2 separate regions of the Homo sapiens genome follow, and region 1 is linked to region 2. The links come from fine-mapping of genetic effects on gene expression. Tissue or cell type: sun-exposed skin. Region 2 holds a variant in brackets; the other region holds the start of a gene. All regions are shown on one strand. Distances are from middle to middle.

What was found. PIP is the estimated chance that this variant, and not a neighbour inherited with it, causes the effect.
Region 1: it holds the start of CX3CR1, and the variant in region 2 is fine-mapped to the expression of CX3CR1 in sun-exposed skin (GTEx, PIP above 0.99).

What each region holds. Positions count from the first base shown.
Region 1 is chr3:39,275,350-39,285,778 of GRCh38, forward strand. CX3CR1 (C-X3-C motif chemokine receptor 1) reads right to left here and starts at 4,687. Exons shown (of 2, transcript NM_001337.4): 1 at 4,605-4,687.
Region 2 is chr3:39,379,194-39,389,622 of GRCh38, forward strand. It overlaps SLC25A38 (solute carrier family 25 member 38), which reads left to right and starts at 4,177. Exons shown (of 7, transcript NM_017875.4): 1 at 4,177-4,600; 2 at 10,302-10,423. The coding sequence starts at 4,532. LOC105377644 (a long non-coding RNA gene) reads right to left here and starts at 5,132. Exons shown (of 3, transcript XR_007096252.1): 1 at 5,048-5,132; 2 at 3,760-3,851; 3 at 238-1,927. It overlaps LOC105377037 (a long non-coding RNA gene), which reads left to right. Exons shown (of 3, transcript XR_001740661.3): 3 at 1,734-1,959. RefSeq lists enhancers at 4,486-4,665, 4,686-4,785, 4,796-4,845, 5,316-5,385 and a silencer at 5,076-5,225. The variant C/T (reference allele first, on the strand shown) is at 5,073.

The DNA.
Region 1 (10,429 bases), 100 kb before region 2:
CCTAACTGAAGAGCCTTGCTCAGTGCTGCAAAATTACCCCTTGTCTTAAAGATAAATTTGATTTTCCTCTGGGTAGAGCCAGTTAGCTAACACAAGTGGTTACCCTAATTACCAGGTAAATTTAGAGTGAACCATGTACGGCAAACGGTGCTGGCAAGACCTCTTACTTGAGGAACAGTTATTGTTTGCCTTGATAACATGTATGTAACAGGTTGTATCTACTTGGCTATACAAAAGGGGGAGATTTCTTTCTGTTCTTGCAACCTCTTAGTAGATGGCCTATAATGCTCTGCATATTTTGGTTTACTGCTTATTCCATAATAAAACTGTTCTTTCTCTACTCCTTTTGTGGAGAGAATCTCTGTGTTGAAAGAAGACTTTGTTAATTATATTTCACCAATACTAGGCACTGTGCTAGATTCTGTAGAGGCAAAAGTGTTTAAGATACAGTTCCTAGAAGTGTTTATTATTGCTCAGTAACAGAATATAAGAAAAGTCATGGGAAGCCCAAGGATTGAACCTCTATATCTGTCTCCTTAAAAACTGGGGGAGGGTGATCAAGAGGATATCACAAAAAAAAAAAAAAAAATCTGCCGTTTGAGCTGATGTTTTAAGGATGGGGAAAGTCTTCCAGGTTGACCAAGATGGAGGTGGCAGTGAATAGTGGGTGGGCTTTGAAGACAAAGGCACAGAGGGTCTGAGCATAGGAAGGTTTCCTGGGGCCAAGGCCAGGCAGAGGGAAATAGGAACAGAAGGCAGTGAAGATGGTGGAGTTGGGAGGAGCCCACATGCTCCCAGAGTGTTCAGGAAAGTCAGTTTAGGCTGAGTGCAGGGCTTCGGGGAAGGATGCAGAGAAAGCCAAGGCTGAAAAGGGAGAAGAGGGACATAGAGAGGGGTCTGAAATTCCACACTAAGTAACTACAAGGAAAAATGATGAAAGACTTTGAAATAGACACACACTGAAGATTACTGGGAGTCCTTTCTGGCATACTCTTTGGGGCTACCTCCCCCTTTTATTGCCTGAGCTAATTTTACAGCACCGTAGGTTATAGCAGATAGCAGTGCAAATGACTCTTGCTCATGGAAATACAAATTTTGTCTAGTGGAGATGCACTGGATTAAGTGCCCTGTAGATATGGACCAATTGTGCCTTTATCTCTAAATTCATCTCAGTATTTCTGGAAGCATCTCACCCATGCTGTTGGTTTGGCTGTAGACTGCTAATTCTCCTTGCTGCGTAGGATTCCACTGTGTGACTAGTCCATGATTTATTGCCATTTCTACTGCTAATGCACACATAGGTGGCTTTCAGTTTGTTGCTAGTTTGGACAATGTTGCCGTGAAAATTTTTGTGCATGTACATCTCCTACAACGTGGATGCATTTTAAAAGTTTAGTCTTGAGCCAAACCAAAAAGTATGAATCCAAATATGAAGATCAAAAATAGGCAAAGCTAAGCTATATTGTTTAGGGATGATATTTAGATTCAGTCAAACTATAGGGAAAAGCAAGGAAGTGATCACCATAGAAGTCAGACTTGTGGTTCTTTGTGGGAGAGGAAGAGGCTGTGGTCAGGAAGGGACATGAGAGAGGCTTCTGGGGTTCTCTTTCTCAGCCTGGATGGTAGTAATGTGGGAAATTAAATCTAATACTTTGCTAACCCAGACATTGTTCTTTCAGTGTGTTGTATTTTGCAATAAACAAAATACAACACACTGAAAAGAGACTTTCCATTTTCTCCTTAAGCACACTTTAAGGGGAAAACAAAGGTGGTCTAGGAAGATGTTTAAAGACATATGATACAGCTTTTCTTCCTTACTCACAAGCTAAAAAGCTGCACTTTGGCCAAACAAGATGAGGGGGTCGAAGCATCAGCTGTGGCCAGCGTGCCGTGAGAATCCCACCTGTGAAGCAGCCAGCAGATTCTGAGCCCCTCAAGAGGGCAGGTGGGATCAAGGTTCAGCTAGAAGCCCCAACTTTCCCCTGGCTCTTCTGGGCAGAGTGAGTGATGCCAGAGAGCCCAACTTCTCGGAATGCCTGGGCTGTGCTGCTAGGAATCAGAACAAGTCCTTGGGAAAGGCAGCCAAGATCTGGATTCTGCCATTCTGGTTCCACTCCCTCCTATGACCGTGACCTGCTGTGGAGCAGCAGAAGTTCCCCTCCTTGTTCAGCTCCTCCATTACAGGTGCTGGTTCCAAACGTCTCTGGACTCAGGATACTGGGTCAGAGGCTGGGGCTGGGGAGGAGCAGTTGGATGCCTGGATCCCAAGAAGGAGGTTTTTTGAGGCTAGGGTCTCTGGCTAGGGAGAACCATACCTGACATTGCCACTGTGCCATAGCTGCCTAGGGCCGGGCAGGCTTCCTCCTGGGATGGGGTGGGGTGAGGAAGGGGATAGACGATCGTCCTGACTGGGTCAGCTCTAATACGTTCTTTGCTTTCCTGCCCCTACAGCTCTGGATTCTTCACAACCTCATTCAATAGTAGTCAGTGTTTTTCAGGTATCCAAACTTTCTGAGGCTCAGTTTCCTCATGACAACAACATATATCGTTTCTTGAGCATCAAAGATGGGTCAGGCAGTGTGTTTGGGACTTCCTATACCATGCCTTTAATCCTTGCAGAAAGTTGACACATACCCATTACATGGCTTCAAAGGCTGATGGACAATCTCCATTTTAAAAGCAGGAAACAGACTTAGCAAGCCCAGTGCACAGTCACCAAGTGCAGAGCCAGGACTTCATTCCTGACTTCATTCCTTCATTCCAAAGCCAAGCTGCCTATGTCCCCATCTGTGAAGTGGGGCCAGCTGAGGAGCAGGGTTCAGGAGCAGACTTTGTGGAGACTGGCACGTGGCTGATGGATAGTAGGTGCTCCCATCCCAGAGGTGTGGCAAGTGCCAGGTAAGCCTGAGCACTAAGAAGAACCACACTGAAGTTGGGCTGAGACTATTTCCTGCCCTGCCTTCCTTTGTGAAAATAAAGCCAAGCAAAGAGGAAGATGAAAGAATCCACCCTAGCCTTCCTGAGCCCATTTCTCATTCCCAGGGGTTTTGAACCCCAATCCACTGCCCCCATTCCCAACCCACAGTGGTCCTCAAGGCTCTCCAGCACAGGTCCGTCACCCACCCTGCCTCCTCTCAGGAAACCCAGCTCCCTCCAAAGCGCCCTCTGGGCCTGGGATGCCCTGAGCAATGCAAGCTTTCTTGCCTGCTTTCACGTGGTTCAATTTTCCTTTTTTTTTGGCTCAATTTTTTTCTGCCTCAAGTTTTCTACCTCAAGTATTTCAAAAATTAATTTTTTTTTCTTTTCTTTTTTTTTTTTTTTTTTGTGGAGTGGGTGTTGAAAGAATCCTAAACTTTCTTAGCCATTCTCTGGACTGAGCTATAAACTCACAAAGCAAGGATTGCAGGCTCTGTGAGGCTGTGATTGCCAGAGGCAAGGCAAGAGAAATAACAAGCCGTGGTCAGTCCTCAGCTGGGGCCTCTGATGGATTTCCTCCTGTCTTGCACTCATAATTTCTTTCTGAAGACCATGTTTTCCACCCACACAAACCTGAGCCTGAGTATCCTCACAATGGTTATAACAACATATATCAAAATTGAACACTAAATTTGTGCCAGGAATTTATTAATGGAGAAACCCCGCCTCTACTAAAAATACAAAATTAGCCGGGCGGTGGTACATGCCTATAATCCCAGCTACTTGGGAGGCTGAGGCAGGAGAATCACTTGAACCCAGGAGGCAGAGGTTGCAGTGAGCCGAGACTGTGCCATTGCACTCCAGCTTAGGCAACAAGAGCAAAACTCCGTCTCAAAAAACAAAACACAAACAAGAAAGAAAACCCAAAAAACAAAAAACAAACAAAAACCCATAGATGGTACAAAAAGTGGAAGAAAAAGGAAAAAAAAACCCATGAAACTATCTGCAATGCAGTTTCCTAGAATCAACCACAGTAATCTTTTAGCTTTTCTCTATCTAAATGTTATACATATTTTATATTTATATTAAGTGCATTTATATTTATATTAAAATACAGATACAAATTTAAAAACTCTTTATTATTAAATTTTCAAATAAAAAGCAACTTTTCAAATAAAAGCAGCGAGAACCTCCTTATACCCAACACCTGGCTTCAACTATTAGCAACCCATGGTCAATATTTCCTCTATTTCCCACTTAATGTCTCTACTGAATTATTTAATTTCACCCATAAACACTTGTGTGCATCTCTAAAAGTTAAGGACTCTTTTTTGAAAAAGACTTTAATACAATTTCTCATCTCAAAAAATTAGCAATAATTCCTCAACAGCATCCAGATGCAATTTTTCATGCTTTTTTCAGTTAGTTTAAAATCATGAGCTTTTCTCCATGTCTCTAAAATGTAATTACTAATGCTTCTAATACTATTCCACCAGGTTGAGTGTATTATAAATGATCTGATCACCCCTTGCCTCCCACTCTTCCATCCCCTTGGACATATTTAGGCTACAACATCCCCAGGAAAATGGTTTCCATTGTCTGCACGTAAGCAAACAGGCATTATTAACCTATTAGCTGTCCACTGCTCCACCCCACCCACAGGTACCCAACTAGTCCTGTGCACCTACCTGGCGTGGACTGCCAAGGGAACCTCTGGATCTGCCAGTCAGCCACCCTGTCCTGCTCAGACTTTACCAGAGACGAGTATTTCCCTTTCCTTCCCTCTAAGAGCATTTTATTTGCAGAGTTAGCCAATAGTATCTTGTTTCCTGTAAGGGAGACTATCTTTAGATGCTGCCACAGGCAAGCTCAGATACTCCAGGGTGGAGGCCAGCTGCCAACAGGAGGGCCTGACTTTATAAACCTGGAAGATCTAAACCTCAGGGAAGACTGCGGAGCTGGAGGGAGAGAGGTGCCACTTACCCCAACCTGGAGGTGGGGGGCAGGGAGCAGGCCCTGCAGTCAGCAAAGCACAGCACAGTCAGCTCTCATTAATGGGGAGCCTTCAGGAAGCTGGGAGAGCTCATGGGGCCCTCAGCTTCCCTGCCCACGAGAGGGAGCCCAGAGTACTCACTGGACCACACTGGGGCACACACAGCTCTTCTCCTCAAAGTGCAGTCCCAGGCACTGGGAGCTTATTAAAGACAGCACCTCAAGCCCTGCCCTATATCTGCTGAATTAGAATCTGCATTTTAATGAAATTCTTAGAAGAGTGATATGCATACTAAGTTTGAGAAGCTTTGGTACTGAAGGCATCTAGTGAGTACCTTGCACCTTGTAGATGCTCGGTAAATATTTTTTTCCTCACCTCTCTGCCCCAAGGCATTTAGTGGCTCCCTATACCCATCAGTCAAGGCTGAGGACACAGCTTTCACCCAGGACCTGGCCTATGCTCCTTTCACAGTCTCTCCCCCTGCCACTCTTGCCCTGCAGTGGGGAGCCTGGTGGGCTCCGGCATCCAGCCATGCTTCTGCTCCCTGGCCTGGCCAGCTTGGGGCGACTGCAACGTGAATCTCAACTGCCACTGCCTCATCACCTTCCGATCACTTCATTACCTGCCTGACCCCTGGCATATGCTATATAATTCTGATCCATCCCTAACTAGGGCCTGGCCCATGGTGGCCTTCAATACACCTTCATTAAATGGTCTGTGACCCCTTCAAGGCCCCTCTGGCCCCTTGCTGCCCACATCCCAGCCACATCCGGTGCTCCCTTACCTCTAGTCGCTGTGGTGTTCCGAGGACAGCGGGTGCTCTGTGTGCTCCCCACCTTGCCCCTCCTCACCTCCCCCAACCCCAGGACAGAGCTGGGGGCTGCAGTGCAGTGCTGCGGGCTTGGTGGCCTGCTCATGGTGGAAGAAGTCCACCAGCAGTTTTCTTTCTTTGTTCTTGGTCTCAGTGTTTGGCCACCTTTCCCTGCCTTTGGCCAGAAGGCCACAGGACAAAAGCAGAGTCAGGCCGCTCCCCATCCACTTTCTGACACTGGCCCCTCCCCACCCCACACCACCCCTTGATACCTCTCCTGGGGTCCACTCAGCTGGGCTGGCTGCCTCAGCCCCTTCCTTGCCTCTGACTCCCCTCCTCTTCTGAGGGCTCCTTTCTTGGATCTGGCCAAGACTCTCCCTCTCTTCCTGTCCCACACTCTTGACGACAGTCTCATCCACCCCACATCAGTAATCCCCTCCGTGTTCATGAGCACACATCTCTACCTCCATCCAGGGCCTGGATAATTTCCCAAGCCCATCTAACCTTCTCCGTTCTCTGTCTTTCCTCTCACCACTTACCCCACTGGCCATTCTCCACCCAGAAGCCAGAGAGCTCTTCCTGAAATCCAAGTCTGCCAACTTAAACGCCTCCAGGGGTTCTCTCATCCTGGTTTAAGTCCACGGCCTGGTAAGCACGGCCCGCCCCTTCTCACTTCCTACTGTGCTCTCACCACTTCCACTTCCCCCAACATGCCTGTGCCCGTGGCAGGCTCTCTTCCCTTCCCAACTCACCTGGCTGTCCTGTCCAGGACGTGATTTTACCCTCTTTTAAAGCTAACGGCTATGTTCCACAGCTGCTAGCAGCACAGGGCTTCATGCTTGGCAAGCATGAGAACCAGCGTCCAGTGTCAGTTGCCTTGCCCCCAAGCCCCACAGAGTGATGCCATGGCTTGGATAGATACCTGTGAATGTGTGAGGGATGGGGAGGTTATAGGAAGGGAACTCTGACCTTGGGTAACGTGCCATTTTATAGCAAGCAGTAAGCAAGTCGGTTATTTGGCCCTGAGCGAGATGTCAGCTCATCCTTCAAGGTTGCTCACTGCAAACTCAACCCTGCAAGATGGACCAAGTGAAGAGCATTAGTGCTTTGCATTCTTGACACACTCATGGAGACAGAAAGAGCCTTGGCAGCCTTCCCCCTCCCTCCACGCCTCCTTGGGCCTCTGTAAAGGAGTCTCTGGCTCAGCGCTGGGAATTCTCTCCTCCCTGAACTCTTGTTCAACCCCTCCCCCGTACTCTCACTCTGGTACAGCCTTATTCCTTAGATCCCCGTCTTCATCTCTCTTTCTGCCCAGCCCCTTTGGCTTCACTCTCTGTTGGAGCTGACCCTTGTTCACAAGTTCTTTGTCATTCTGCATTTCTCTTCCAGTTGAGACAGTAAATGCAGAGGACAGTTTGGTTTCTGCTGGGCAGAGAAATGAGAGTGTGGTGGGCTGGCTCAAAGGCAGGAGGCCAGACAGAGAGGCTGTGAGGATGGTGGGGACACCCTGGACAGTGATGGGTGTCCCCACCCATCACTGCAGGCACCCATCACACAATGCAGGCAAGGACTGGAGACTTGGTGTGAATAAAGCTTTGTGGGAATGTGGGGTAGAGATGCAGAAAAGGAGAGTGAGAATGTGATTCACCTTAATTGCCAAACCAAGATACTTCCATGTTCTTCTGTGGGCCCTGGAGAAATTTGGGAATAATTACATAAGCAGTTGTGCAGCACTAGGTCTGCCTGAGGCAATGTCCTAAGTCCTCGATGTACATGAACTCATGTAGTGCCCCCAGTGACCCTATGATGCAGGTGCTAATGTTTTTGTTTTTGTTTCTTTCAGACAGGGTCTGGCTCTGTTATCCAGGCTGGAGTGCAGCCACATGATCATAGCTCACTGCATCCTTGATCTCCTGGGCTCGAACGATCCTCTCACCTCAGCCTCCCAAGTAGCTGGAACTACAGGCACACATCACCACACCCAGCTAATTTTTGTATTTTTTGTAGAGACAGAGTTTCGCCATGTACCCAGGCTGCTCTTGAACTCCTGAGTTTGAGTGATCCTTCTGCCGCAGCCTCCCAAAGTGCTGGGATTACACGTTTAAGCCACTGTGTGTGGCCGCAGGTACTATTATTATCCTCATCTTATATGTGAGGAGTTTGAGACAAGGAGGAGAAGTTATGTAACTTGTACAAGACCACACAGCTCATGTGTGGTAGGGCCAATATTTGAACTTAGCATTGAGGTTTTATGGTCTATGCTGTGCATTCTTAGTAGAGGTGGTATTACTTCCAAGGTGGCGAAAATTGGTTCTGGAAGGTTCTTGTGCTTTATGTATAAAACACAGATATACATATAGTAGCTAAACCAATAGCATATCTGTGGAATAAAATTCCATGGTAGGGGGAGGTGAGTAAGAATGTAATGTGGGCCAGGCATGGTGGCTCACGCCTGTAATTCCAGCACTTTGGGAGGCCAACGTGGGTGGATCACGAGATCAGGGGTTCAAGACCAGCCTGGCCAAAATGGTGAAACCCTGTCTCTACTAAAAATATAAAAATTAGCCAGGCGTGGTGGCGGGTGCCTGTAATCCCAACTACTTGGGAGGCTGAGGCAGGAGAATCGCTTGAAACCGGAAGGTGGAGGTTGCAGTGAGCCGAGATAGCGCCACTGCACTCCAGCCTGGGCGAAAGAGCGAGACTCCATCTCAAAAAAAAAAAAAAATTATATATATATATATATATATATATATATATATATATATATATATAATGTGGTTAATAGGCACAAAAAATACTTAGAATAAATAAGACCTAGTATTTACAAGCACAACAGGGGCACTATAGTAAAAAAAATTTAATTTACCTTTACAAATAACTAAAAGAGTATGATTGGATTGTGTGTAACACAAAGGATAAATGCTTGAGGTGATGCATACCCCATTTCCTCTGATGTGATTATCACACGTTACATGCCTGTATCAAAGCATTTCATGTAACCTACAAACATATACACACGCTATGTACCCCGCCACACACAAAAGAATATAATATCTAAAAGGACTTGTTGGGGAGTGATTAAAAAAAGCTGAGAAACCATTGTCTAAGTTTTTTTTTTTTGTTTGTTTGTTTTTAGACAGGATTTACTCCCATCACCCAGGCAGAAGTGCTGAGGTCCGCCTCCTGGGTTCAAGCTATTCTTCCACCTCAGCTTCCCGAGTAGCTGGGATTACAGGAGCCTGCTACCACATCTGGCTAATTTTTGTATTTTTAGTGGAGATGGGGTTTCACCACGTTGGCCAGGCTGGTCACGAACTCCTGACCTCAAGTGATCTGCCCACCTTGGCCTCCCAAAATGCTGGGATTACAGGCGTGAGCCACTGCGCCCAGACAAGAAACCCTTGTCTAAGGTCTTAATCAGACCACTCTGCTACCTCCCAGTTTAAAGTCTGGGGATTAGAGGGTGACATGACAAAAGTAGTCTCTTCAGAAAAATCAATCAATGGGTGGGTGTGAGGGAAACGGCTGCATAAAAGGGAAGGAAAAGACGTACATCAAGGACTTCTCCATGCCAGGCCCTGTGCGAGGCACATTGTCCATTATATCTCTTTTTTACTTTCACTTTCTAGTCAGGTATTATTTTTTCCATTTTCAGATGATGAAATGGGGAGAAAAGAGCAATGAGTCCTAGGCCACACAGCTGAAAAAGGGTCAAGTCAGGATTGGAACTTCCTGCCCAGATGCAGGCAGGGAACAGCAAGAGGGGAGCCAAAGCAGTGGGTGGTGGAAGACGGAGAAGGGATCTCGCTACAGGAAAATGCATAGAATTGTAAAGGACCAGACACGTTGAGGGTCAAGTGAGCATCCAAAGGCTGTGTTGCCATTGACAAGTCGAAAGCAATATGCTGGGAGATTTCAGAAGCAGAAAAAAAGTCTCTCTTTCCTCTTCTACCCTAAGAGGACAAAAGATCTTCTCCCTCTAAGAGGAGAAAAGATCAGACTTAGAAAATTAGAGGCCAATAGAAAATTGGAGGTGGCTCATGCCTGTAATTCCAGCACCTTGGGAGGCCAAAGTGGGAAGATCATTTGAGTCCAGGAGTTCGAGACCAGCCTGGGCAACATAGGGAGACCTCATTGGTACAGAAAAAAAAAAAAAAAAAAAAATAGCTGGGCATGGTGGTGCCGACCTGTAGTCCCAGCTATGGGAGGCTGAGATGGGAGGATCACTTGAGCCCAGGATTCAAGGGTGTAGTGAGCAGTGATCCTGCCACTGTACTCCAGCCTGGGTGAAAGAATGACTCCAACTCTTAAAAGAAAAGAAAAGAAAAATGGAAAGTTGGAGAGGAGTAAATGTAGACAAAGTAAGTGCTATTTACTACCTCCTTCTGTCCCAATGTTTACATTTAACATCATCTGTGGCAATTTTCAGGTTTGTTTCATAAATTCTGCTCAACAGTGATTAAAAGCACTTCCCCTTTGGAACCATAGCAAACAGGATCTGGCAAGGAACTCCAGGAGTACTTAGGATAAACTATTTTTTAGGCATCATTCAACTTTTGCTTTGCAATACTTAAAAATATCTGTCTGCAGACAGTATATGTCATTTTTTAAAAATTAAAAATTAAAAAATCTGCTCTCTCACCAAATATGGCATGTGTTTCCATTAAAGTGGAACTTACCAATGGAAGAATAATGGAAAATGAATAAAT
Region 2 (10,429 bases):
AGAATCAATGCCTGATTCCAAAGTCCACTTTCTTTTTACAGCATTACTCTGCCTCAGTGGTCTCTCAAAGACACACAGAAAAAAGCAGGAGATAGCCTCTACCCTTTAAGGAAGGGAAACAAGGTGTATTTGTCAGGGAAATATGTGTCCTGATTTTCTTTCATCCAGATTATGAAAGATAATCTCCTTTACTTAAAGTCAACTGATTACAGAGGTTAACCACATCTACAAAATACCTTCACAGCAACACCTGGATTAGTGTTTAATTGAAAACTGGGTATTATAGCCTAGCCAAGTTGACACATAAAACTGACTGTTACACAAGATGCTGCTTATAAATGAAGTCATTCTGTCCAAGATAAAGAAAAGCTGGCCTGGCATGGTGGCTCATGCCTGGAATCCCAGCACTTTGGGAGGCCAAAGTGGGCGGATCACCTGAGGTCGGGAGTTTGAGACCAGCCTGACCAACATTTTGCTAATTTTGCTAAATGCAAAATTAGCCAGGCGTGGTGGCGCATGCCTATAATCCCAGCTACTCAGGAGGCTAAAGCAGGAGAATTGCATGAACCCAGGAGGCGGAGGTTGTGGTGAGCCGGGATCGCAGCATTGCACTCCAGCCTGGACAACGAGAGTGAAACTCTGTCTCCAAAAAAAAAAAAAAAAAAACCTTCCACATATGGATAGAGCTATAAGCAAACCACAAAACCACAAGTGGGTCCTGCTTACCCCTGTGGGAAATTCAGATCAATCAGGACCTAGAAGATTTGTGACCAGAAAATATGTGCTTATGTTTATAAACTTTTAGCCAAAATGTTGCCCGTTTCCTCATTGTGAAGAAAGCAGGAAAACAAGAAGAGTTTGATTTTTTCCATAAGATGGGGAACTGCTTTGTCAAAATATTGATGGAGTGACTTGTGGCTTCCATATGACAAAACACAAAACACCACACTGCCTGGGCACGCACCATGGCTCCTCTCCCTTCCACTGCCCCTAACAACTTGGTCCTTGGAGTAGAATGTGAAGATCCCACTCCTGCAGGAACGCAGTCCACCCCACAGAGCCATCTGCCCCTCCCTCGGATACCAGCTTGTAAGCCGCTCTAACTCATTGTTCTCTCGTAGCCTGGTCACCCTTGGCTCAGGGGTGAGGTTACAGGCAATAGTCACTGGCACAGAAGGAAGAAAGGTGTTTCCTTCTTGTGAAGCCAAAAGCAGTGACAGGACCATCCTCTTTGTGGAAGTTTCTGGGTAAAGCCATTAGAATTCCCTTTTTTTCTGCAGTATTCACCCATTCTTGTGATCAGGCAAAGAGTGGCTTCCCCCACTGGTGAAGACAGTGCCCTTGGAGACTCTTAAGGCTTCTCTTTCAGGTTGTGCATGTTTAGGATGGGAGCAGATATTCAGATGGAGAGGAGCCTCCATTAGTTACAGGACGAAGACTATCATAAGATGCCCATTAGACCTGAGAGGCCAGTAGGCATAGAGAGACTGATGAAGATGGGCGGTAAGGGAGGTTGTAGCAGAGAGAATGCATGGTATCTCCCCTCTCAATCCCCTATTGGTTTCCAAAAGGCAAAGGCTGGCCTCATTGTTTTGGCATCAGTAGAAGAGAAAATTTAGATATTTCCAGAAGCAGCTCTGGCTCCAGGCAGGTAGAAAGATCTTGCTGAGCTGGTCTGCTGGAAACATGGAGGTGGGGGCAGTGATTTACCTGTGTGCTTTTCACCATTCCAGCCATCTTCTTACAAATGAAGTGACGCAGATGCAAGGTGCTGCAAGGCCCACCTCCTCCTGCTCTGACAGGCAGACAGGAAACCAAAGCCCCTATCTGAGCAGCCTCTGTCTCTCCCATTCACCTCCAGCTTCCCATGTGGACCTTTGCCTTTTCCTTCTTGGATGGTGGAAACTCCTCCAGATGTCAAGACTTGCTGTGAATAAAGTTTTAAGAGGAGGTCATGTATCCAAACTGATACATGTGTATTTCTTCCTGGGTAGAGGGTGTCTACAATCCTTGGGATGGGAAAACATCATGTAACCTGATCATACAATCCAGAAAACATGGGCCACTTTGGATCTTTGAGGGACCAGTGTGTAATTGAGGGAAGTTAGGTCATAAGAGCCAAATCACCTTCCCTTGACTGCAGATAAATCCATTAAGGCTTGCCTTATGCTAATGACCTTGTTTTGAATTAAAGTCACAATGTTTTCTTTTTAAAAAAAAAAATTCACTCCTCCAACTTTGCCATTAAGTACTGCTCCAAACCCCCCACTCATCTGCCAATGGGTGATGCTCTTTCCCCATGATCATTATATATCTCTGCATCCCCACAAACATCCAGGGGAGGAGATGTGGGAAAAGAAGGGCCTGTGGGCTTTAGAGTTATGAGTAAGCATGGCAGGAGCAGATACAGAGGAGGGAAATCTGCCAGCTGCCACCCTTGAAAGCCAGCCCATTTCTTCTGAGCCCACAGCCAAGCAGGCATACCTGGAAGGGTGAGGGAGTGGAGGGCCGGCTTTCACTCTAGATCCCACCTGTGTTCCCACACCCAGAGTGGCCAAGAGCAGTCTCTAAAATACGCCAACCCATGATTTCTCAAAAGTAGGGATTCTTGTCTTATGGAATCAGTGCAGCGGGGGTGGGTGTCAGGGTGGAATTAGGTCTTCCTTTAAAAAGAAGTTTCAGTGCATAGTTATCAACATCACTACTGCACAAAGAAAAATAAGCCTTGCAGCTTAGAACAAAGGGTAGCAAAGTATTCAATCACCAGGCAGGTTTGTAATTTTGTTTCGTTTTGTTTTTTGAGATGGAGTCTCGCTCTGTCGCCCAGGCTGCAGTGCAGTGGCACGATCTCGGCCCACTGCAAGCTCCACTTCCTGGGTTCACGCCATTCTCCTGCTTCAGCCTCCCGAGTAGCTGGGACTACAGGCGCCTGCCACCACACCCGGCTATATTTTTAGCAGAGACGGGATTTCACCATGTTAGCCAGGATGGTCTCGATCTCCTGACCTCGTGATCGGCTCGCCTCGGCCTCCCAAAGTGCTGGGATTACAGGCGTGAGCCACCGCACCCGGCCTGTAATTTTTTTTTTTTTTTTAATGTTTATACTTTCCTTAATCCTTTCTGGGAATAACCTCCTCTGGGACCACTTTCCTTCCTGTTCTATGTACCTCAGAAGCACAGGAATGAAGCCTGAAAAAATATTATCTTGCTCCCTAAGTCACTTTCCTTTCTGATCTAGTTCTTGGGTGATGAATGAAGGTGGAAAGTAGCGAAGGTTGCTATGAAAAGCTTGGACTTTATTACCAGGGCCACTGCATTTTCAACAGGAGTGTCAGGATCCCAGCAGTAATGCTTTTCCATGGATCAGCCAGACAGGCATAAGGGGAAGTTGGGAGACCAAAAAAGCCATTGACAGATTCCAGGTGAGCAATAAACCAGAATTTTGACCAACTAGACCAGCGCTGTCCTACAGAAATGTAATGGGAGCCACATGTTAAAGTTTAAATGTTTTACTAGCCACATTTAAAAAGAAACACATGAAGTTATTATTATTTGTTTTAGAGACGGGGTCTTGCTTTGTCGTCCACGCTGGTCTCCAACTCCTTGGCTCCCTCAAGCAATCCTCCAGACTAGGCCTCACAAAGTGCTGAGATTACAGGCCTGGGCCACTGCCCCCGGCCTGAAGTTAATTTTAATATTTCACCTAACCCAATATATCCAAAATATCATTTCAACATATAAAAATTATTGAGATTTTACCTCACCAGTCTTAGACATCCAGCGTGTGGTTTATGCATACAGTACATATCAATTCCACACTAAATTTTCAGCATTTAAAGGGAAATATGGTCCTGAAAAAAAAACAACAAAACAAAAAAACGCCTGTTTAAGGAGAAAGCATTCCACACTGCTTGTTTTAATATAATTAAAATTAATGTATCAATTAATAAATCAATAGCCCACGTTGGCTAGTGGCTGCCTTACTGGGCAGACCAGGTCTGGATTGTAAATACGTTCAGACGTTCCACGCAAAAGCAAAGTTCCCTGCAGACGCTCCATTAAGTTCTGGGTGCAAGGAAGCGCGGATCCTTCAGTTCTGGGCGTTTTCACCAGGTGGCACTCAGAACACCCTCACGTGACAAGCGTCCCACCCGGAAGCGAAATCTCCCCTTCTACAGAGTTCCTCCGGCGCTTCCTCCACCCCGGGATACACAGAACCTCATCTCCTACGGTGCTGAAGCCTGCAGCAGGGCAGGATGGGCAGGAGAGCAGAGCCGCGGAGTCTGCGGCGCGGGTGAAGAGCGGCGCGTAATTCCCGCAGCAAGATTGTTCCGCGCCCGCAGCCCCTGGACTAGCAGGATCCGAACCCCGGCGGCTGCGTGCTTATAGGCGCAGACGTCAGAGAGCCCGCGGCTTAAAGCGCGTCGCCTGGCTAGCGCCACCCCCTAGCCTTCTTCAAGGCCTCCAGGGCTGGGCCCAAGCGCCCGTCGACGGCACCCTGGGCCCAGAGGACTCGCGGGCCTCATCTCCAATGATTCAGAACTCACGTCCGTCGCTGCTGCAACCCCAAGATGTCGGAGACACGGTGGAAACGCTTATGGTGAGGGCACTGCGGGGAAGGAAGGGCAGGGGTCCGAACCGCGGGCTCGGGCCGGAGAATTCGGGGCGTTGCTAAGGCTCGGCTACCCTTTTCCGCGCCCCAGGGTGCGCTCAGGATTTAGGATGCGGCGGGAGAGGAGTCTGACTAAGGGAATTGAGAAGGGGGCAGGGAGTGAGGAGAGGCCAGGAGCTGCAGGCCAGCCCTGGGGGCAGGCGCTGTAGGGCCGATGTCCCGGTAAAGGGCGGAATTGCCGGGGCCTGGACTGGACGCGTGCCGGGGAGTGTGCCCGCGCGGCCCCCACAAGGTGCGAGTAGGCTGCCAGGTGGAAGGGCACCCGGGCAGATTTGGGACGGTCACAAGGCCTGATAATAGCGCTGACGCTGAGAAGCCGTTGATGCCGCAGCGAGCTGGCCGGGTAGCGCTGTGCGCCCGCGGGCGGCGGCCTACCTGGAGGGGCCAGTCGTGGCGGCAC[C/T]CTTCCAGCCTGTTGGGACGGCGCGTGGTCCCCCAGCGACGCCACGCCTCCTCCGGCGTTCGATTGGTCATCGTGCCCGGGCCGCCGGGCCGCTATTGGTGGAGGCGGAGGCGGGGCTGGCGGCGTGGTTGCCCGGTAGGTGGAGTCGGGGTGCAACCAGTCTTTAGACGCTAAAGGCCTGAGGCCACTGCAGCTGCCGCAGCTCTCCCTCTGAGGTCTTGCGCCCGAGGTAGGGGCGGCTTTTATTTTTTTTTTTAATCCTTAAAGGCGGAGACGGCGGCGGTGGCGACTTTACGTTGACGTCTTTGAAAACCTGCTTACCTTTTTCAGGGCTCTCCAGCCCTCGCCTCCAGATGTGAATTGGACTTAGGATAGTTTTTTCAGGGCAGTAGGAATTGCTTGTGGATCCAGTTTGTACTCTTATGTGCTACTTATTTCGTGTGCGTATTATTGTTTATGCCCTCTTCTTTCTCCCCTTAAAAAGAAACTACTTTTTTATTTACCTTGAATATATTTTTGAGCTTTCTTTTCTTTTTTCTTTTTTTTTTTTTTTGAGACAGAGTCTCGCCCTGTCGCCCGCGCTGGAGTGCAGTGGCGTGATCTCGGCTCAACTGCAACCTCTGACTCCCGGGTTCAAGTATTTTTCCTGTCTCAGTCTCCCACGTTGCTGGGATTACAGGCGTGCGCCACCACGCCCGGCTAGTTTTTGTATTTTTAGTAGAGAGAGGGTTTCACCATGTTGGCCAGGCTGGTCTTGAACTCCTGACCTCAAGTGATCCGTCTGCCTCGGCCTCCTAAAGTGCTAGGATTACAAGTGTGAGCCACCGCGCTTGGCCTTGAGCTACTTTTTAAAAGTTAAGTTCACTCGCAAAGGATGTGTGCCATTCACCATTGACAAAAATCTTAAGACCATTCAGTATTACCTGTTGGGATGGTTTTTGTTGTTGTTGTTGTCTTGTTTTTGCCTATTAGAAGTTGATCTATACTGCTAGTATAAATAACATCTGCTCTGTGCTAATGGACTGGGAAAAGTACAAAGCTAAAAAAGTTATTGGCTCAATAACTTGAGCCAATAACATGTCTAATCACTGTGCTGTGAAATAAAAGACGTTAAGAAGATATTTCCTGCAATCAAGGGTGGGAAGGTCAAGGACAGCAGCAAATTTGTTTTAAAACAAATTCCACACAGCACCTGTGTGAGCACTGGGGAAGCAGCGCCTAACATAACTGCCCAGAAACTAACTGCAGGTCATTCCTATAGCCTTGCTGGAGCAAGGGGCCTGGAGAGAGGTGGGGGAGATTAACCCATCCTGGGATGAGTCATGCAGGGCCCACCGAGCCCTATCATGTGGGATTGTGCTCAAAGGGAGAGCATAAGGTTTCCTGTTAGGTGGTAAGATTCATTCCGCTGTCACTGCTGAACACCTACTGTGCACCAGGCTCCGAGGTCAGTTCTTGAGATATCACCATGAACAAGACAGGCAGGAGTTGTGACTATTCTGTCTTTGACACGCAGTCATAAGGGAGATGGGGACAGGTGTTGCTGTAGAAGCCGGAAGGAGAGGCACTGAACTTGGACATGGGGGAGTTAGGGAGCAAGACCGGTGCTAGGGCATAACAACATGTCAGAGTTTTCAGAGGTGAAAGTAAGGCGGAGTCCTCCAGTATGGCTGCAGAGTGTGTTAGTGGGAGGGTGAGAACATAGGCCAAAACGGTTAGCAGGAGCCCTGTGATACATGAAAGGCCCTGCAACCAGCAGTTTGGACTTTATCCTGAGAGGAATATGAACCAATTAAAGGGTATTGGTTTGGTTGGGTTTTTTAAAATTATAATTCAATTAGTATTAATGACAAATTTGTGGGATACTCTGTAGCTCCTAATACATTTGTCATTACTTGTATTTTTATTCCATCTTTTTTTTTGGTCTTGTTTTTAAGCTAGTAACTTCAAATTTCACAAAACATTATCTTTCATTGAAGGGTTTTATTTCTGAAAGCAGCATGATCAAATTTGCAGTTTTAAAAGATGACTCAGGCGGGGCATGGTGGCCCACACCTATAATGCTAACACTTTGGGAGGCAGAGGTGAGCAGATTGCTTGAGTCCAGGAGTTTGAGACCAGCCTGTGCAACATAGCGAAACCCCGTCTCTACAAAAAAATTAGCTGGGCACGGTGACACACACCTGTGGTCCCAGCTACTCGTGAGGCTGAGGTGGGAGGATCACCTGAGCCTGAGAGGTCATGGTTGGCAGTGAGCCATGATTGTGCCACTACACTCCAGCCTAGGCATCAGAGCAAGACCTTGTCTCTAAATAAATAATAAAACAGAAGATGACTATGGCTTCAGGGTAAAGAGTGGATTAGAGGGGTCATATAGATGACAAATGGGTAAAAAATTGGTGGCCGTCACCAAGGCAAGAGATAACAGGGTTCTCAGCTGGAATGGATTGGTGGATTTGAGAGCTGTTTTGGAGATAGAGTGAACAAGTGTGGAGAGGCCAAGTCCAAGGATGGTGCTCAGGTTTCTGGCTGGGGTGCTAGAGAAATGGCATGGCATTCACTGGGATGGGGCACCTTGGAGGAGGAGCTGGTCGGAGGTGTGGGAGAAAGGTAAGTTCAGGTTTGGAAACATCATCTGAGGTGGCCATCTGAGTACGTGGCTGTGTGAGACTGAGCTCCAGCGAGAGGCTGAGAGTGTGGAGGGGAGGGTGGAAATGGAACCCTTGGAAGTGGATGAAGAGCCATGGGAGTATGGTTCATTTAAGGGAGAGGCCAGAGAAGTGGGAGGAAACCCAGGACAGTATTAATCTCTGAAGCCAAAGGAAGAGAGCATTTCAAGGAGGGAGTGGTGGTGAATAGTGGAATGCACTGAGTGGCCTAAGTATCCTGGATTTTCACTTTAGACTGGGTGGTATGGTGAAAAGAGTATGAACTTTAAGTCCTGGCCAGTGGCTTCAACCCCTGTGACATAGGACACATTTGTAACCTCTGTGAGCTCCAGTTTAATCTGTAAAACGGGTTTAAAATACCTAGCTCATAAGATGCTATGAGATTTTGAGGTGGTGTCTATAGATGCCTCGCCCAGTGCTACTCTGGGAGCAGAGTGGAGGGTGGGTTGGCATAGTTGAGGCTGGAGACTGCTGCAGAGGTCATTAGGATGGATCAGTGGAGGCCAGACTGGGAAGATTGAGGGCTTGGTCAGTGGGACTTGGTCATGTAGCAGCAGGCATGGTGAGTTTTATGTGTCTCTGAGGTTTCCAACCTGGATTCCTGGAGTATCCCAGTGTGGATTGGAGAAGAGGCAAGTGTGTGGAGAACTGTTGACCAAGTTTCCATTTTGGACATGTTGAATTTGAGATGCCTGTGGGCCATTTGAGGGAAGACAAGGAGACATTAGCAGAGTCTGGGGAGAGGCCAGCCTGGGCTGGAGATGTGGGCATTACCAGCATGTGTGTGAAGCCTGGATATGGGTGAGGTTACTCTGAAAGGAGATAAGAGGAGCAGTCCTATGTGAAGGGCAGGCCAAAGAAGAGAAGGAGAGAGAAACCAGAAACTGTGAGGAGAGGCACTCAGCTATATGGCATGTACCAGAGAGGCCAAGTAAGATAAGGGCAGGGACAGGAACGGGGTCCTGGGGTGCAGCAGGTGCTTGGTGAGCCCTCAGAGGCTGTGTTAGTGGAGGAGATTTAGCTGGATAGCAAACTGGGGGGGCCTGCGGAGGGACTGGCACAGAGCAAGTGGAGATGGTGTAGCGTCAGGCTGGAAAGATGGATGCTTTGGAGCCTGTTGCCTGGCAGAAGAGGAGATGCCAGTGGGAGCGAGAGACCCAGTGTGTGAAGAAGGGGGGCTCATTAATGCCACAAAGTCTTGGGGAGAGACTAGAAACACAGAACTCATGAGAATATTGGTTGGCAGAAGAGCAGGACACCTCTTGGGGAGAGGGAGTTGATGTAGATACAGACTTGCTAAAATACGCACACCTTACTTGGTTTTACCTGTTGTCTTATCAGACCACCCTTTGGTACTTCAGAAGTTATTGCATCGTGGTTGTAAACTCCAGTTTTTAATGACCTTAGTTCCCCCCACCCCCTGCCTCCAACAGTCTTATGAGGAATTCCAGTTATAACTGGCTTCTTTGGTGGAATTTGAGATACACTCTCTTCTCTGTTAAGCAAATACTGCAGATTACAAATATTTCAGTTCCAGGTAAGTAGTTATGTGATGTGTAATGGAAACTTTATATATATTCATCTTAATGTTTTAGGGCCACAATGTGTCATTTATTTAAAAAATAATAGTGCAAATGCCACTTAATAAGGGAAGAGGTCTTTGGGGATGAATTTGCCAAACATTTTTGGAGAAGATAGCTATTTGTTTATTTATTTATTTATTTATTTTAGGGAAGGGGAAGAAGGTCACTGGTTGGATTTTAAGTACCTTTTCACAGTCATTTGTGATACTACTGGGTTCTAGGGGTCTGGAGAAAGGATGCTGTCCTGTAATGATAGCACCAGTGCTGGAAGCTGCAGCTCCTGGAACTAAGGGAGGTATATTTAGTCTTTGAAGGAGTTCCACCCTTCCAGGTGGTGTCTGTAGATTAGCCAGTGTATATGACGGTTCATGGGTTGAAGGAGAAGCAGCAAAGCCAGGGGAGGCTACTGGTCTGTAGGACTGTGTGATCTGCTTAGGGCCCAGTGAGATGGTAAGGGGAAAGTTTTAAATGAAGGAAATACTAGGTTCTACAGGAAGTGGCACTTACATTTTACACAGTGGTTGAGCTTAAGGTTTCATTTGCTTTGGCTTGGTCCTATAAATACCTATAGGTCTTAGAGCGAAGGGAGTCTGCACATCATCAGTTCAAAGTGAAAGCACTGCATTCAATTGACTTTGCTTTTGCAAAGATAGGGAGATGACCAGTAACTTTTTGAGTCAGAACAAATAGGGAAGAGTGGTCAGTGGCATGGAAATAGTTTTGCTCCCACTGAGCAATATGTCTATCAGCAATACGAAGACCAGAGATACCTCTTGCAGCATCCAATGTCCTCAATAACATTGCAGTATTTTTAATTTCTGGCTATACTTTTTCCTTCTCCGAGGTATGAAGAAAACATGAGGCACCACCAGGTAAGTGTCTAAGAGACCATTATAAAGGAATTTGCTGGTCAGGTATAGAGAAAGGTGAGGCTCACACAGGCAGAGCTACTGACACAATATTGTCTTATCCTGCAGTTACATCCGGTGATCAAGGCTTTCCTGTGTGGCTCCATCAGTGGGACCTGCTCTACCCTCCTTTTCCAACCTCTGGATCTCCTTAAAACACGCCTGCAAACCCTCCAGCCCTCAGATCATGGGTAGGC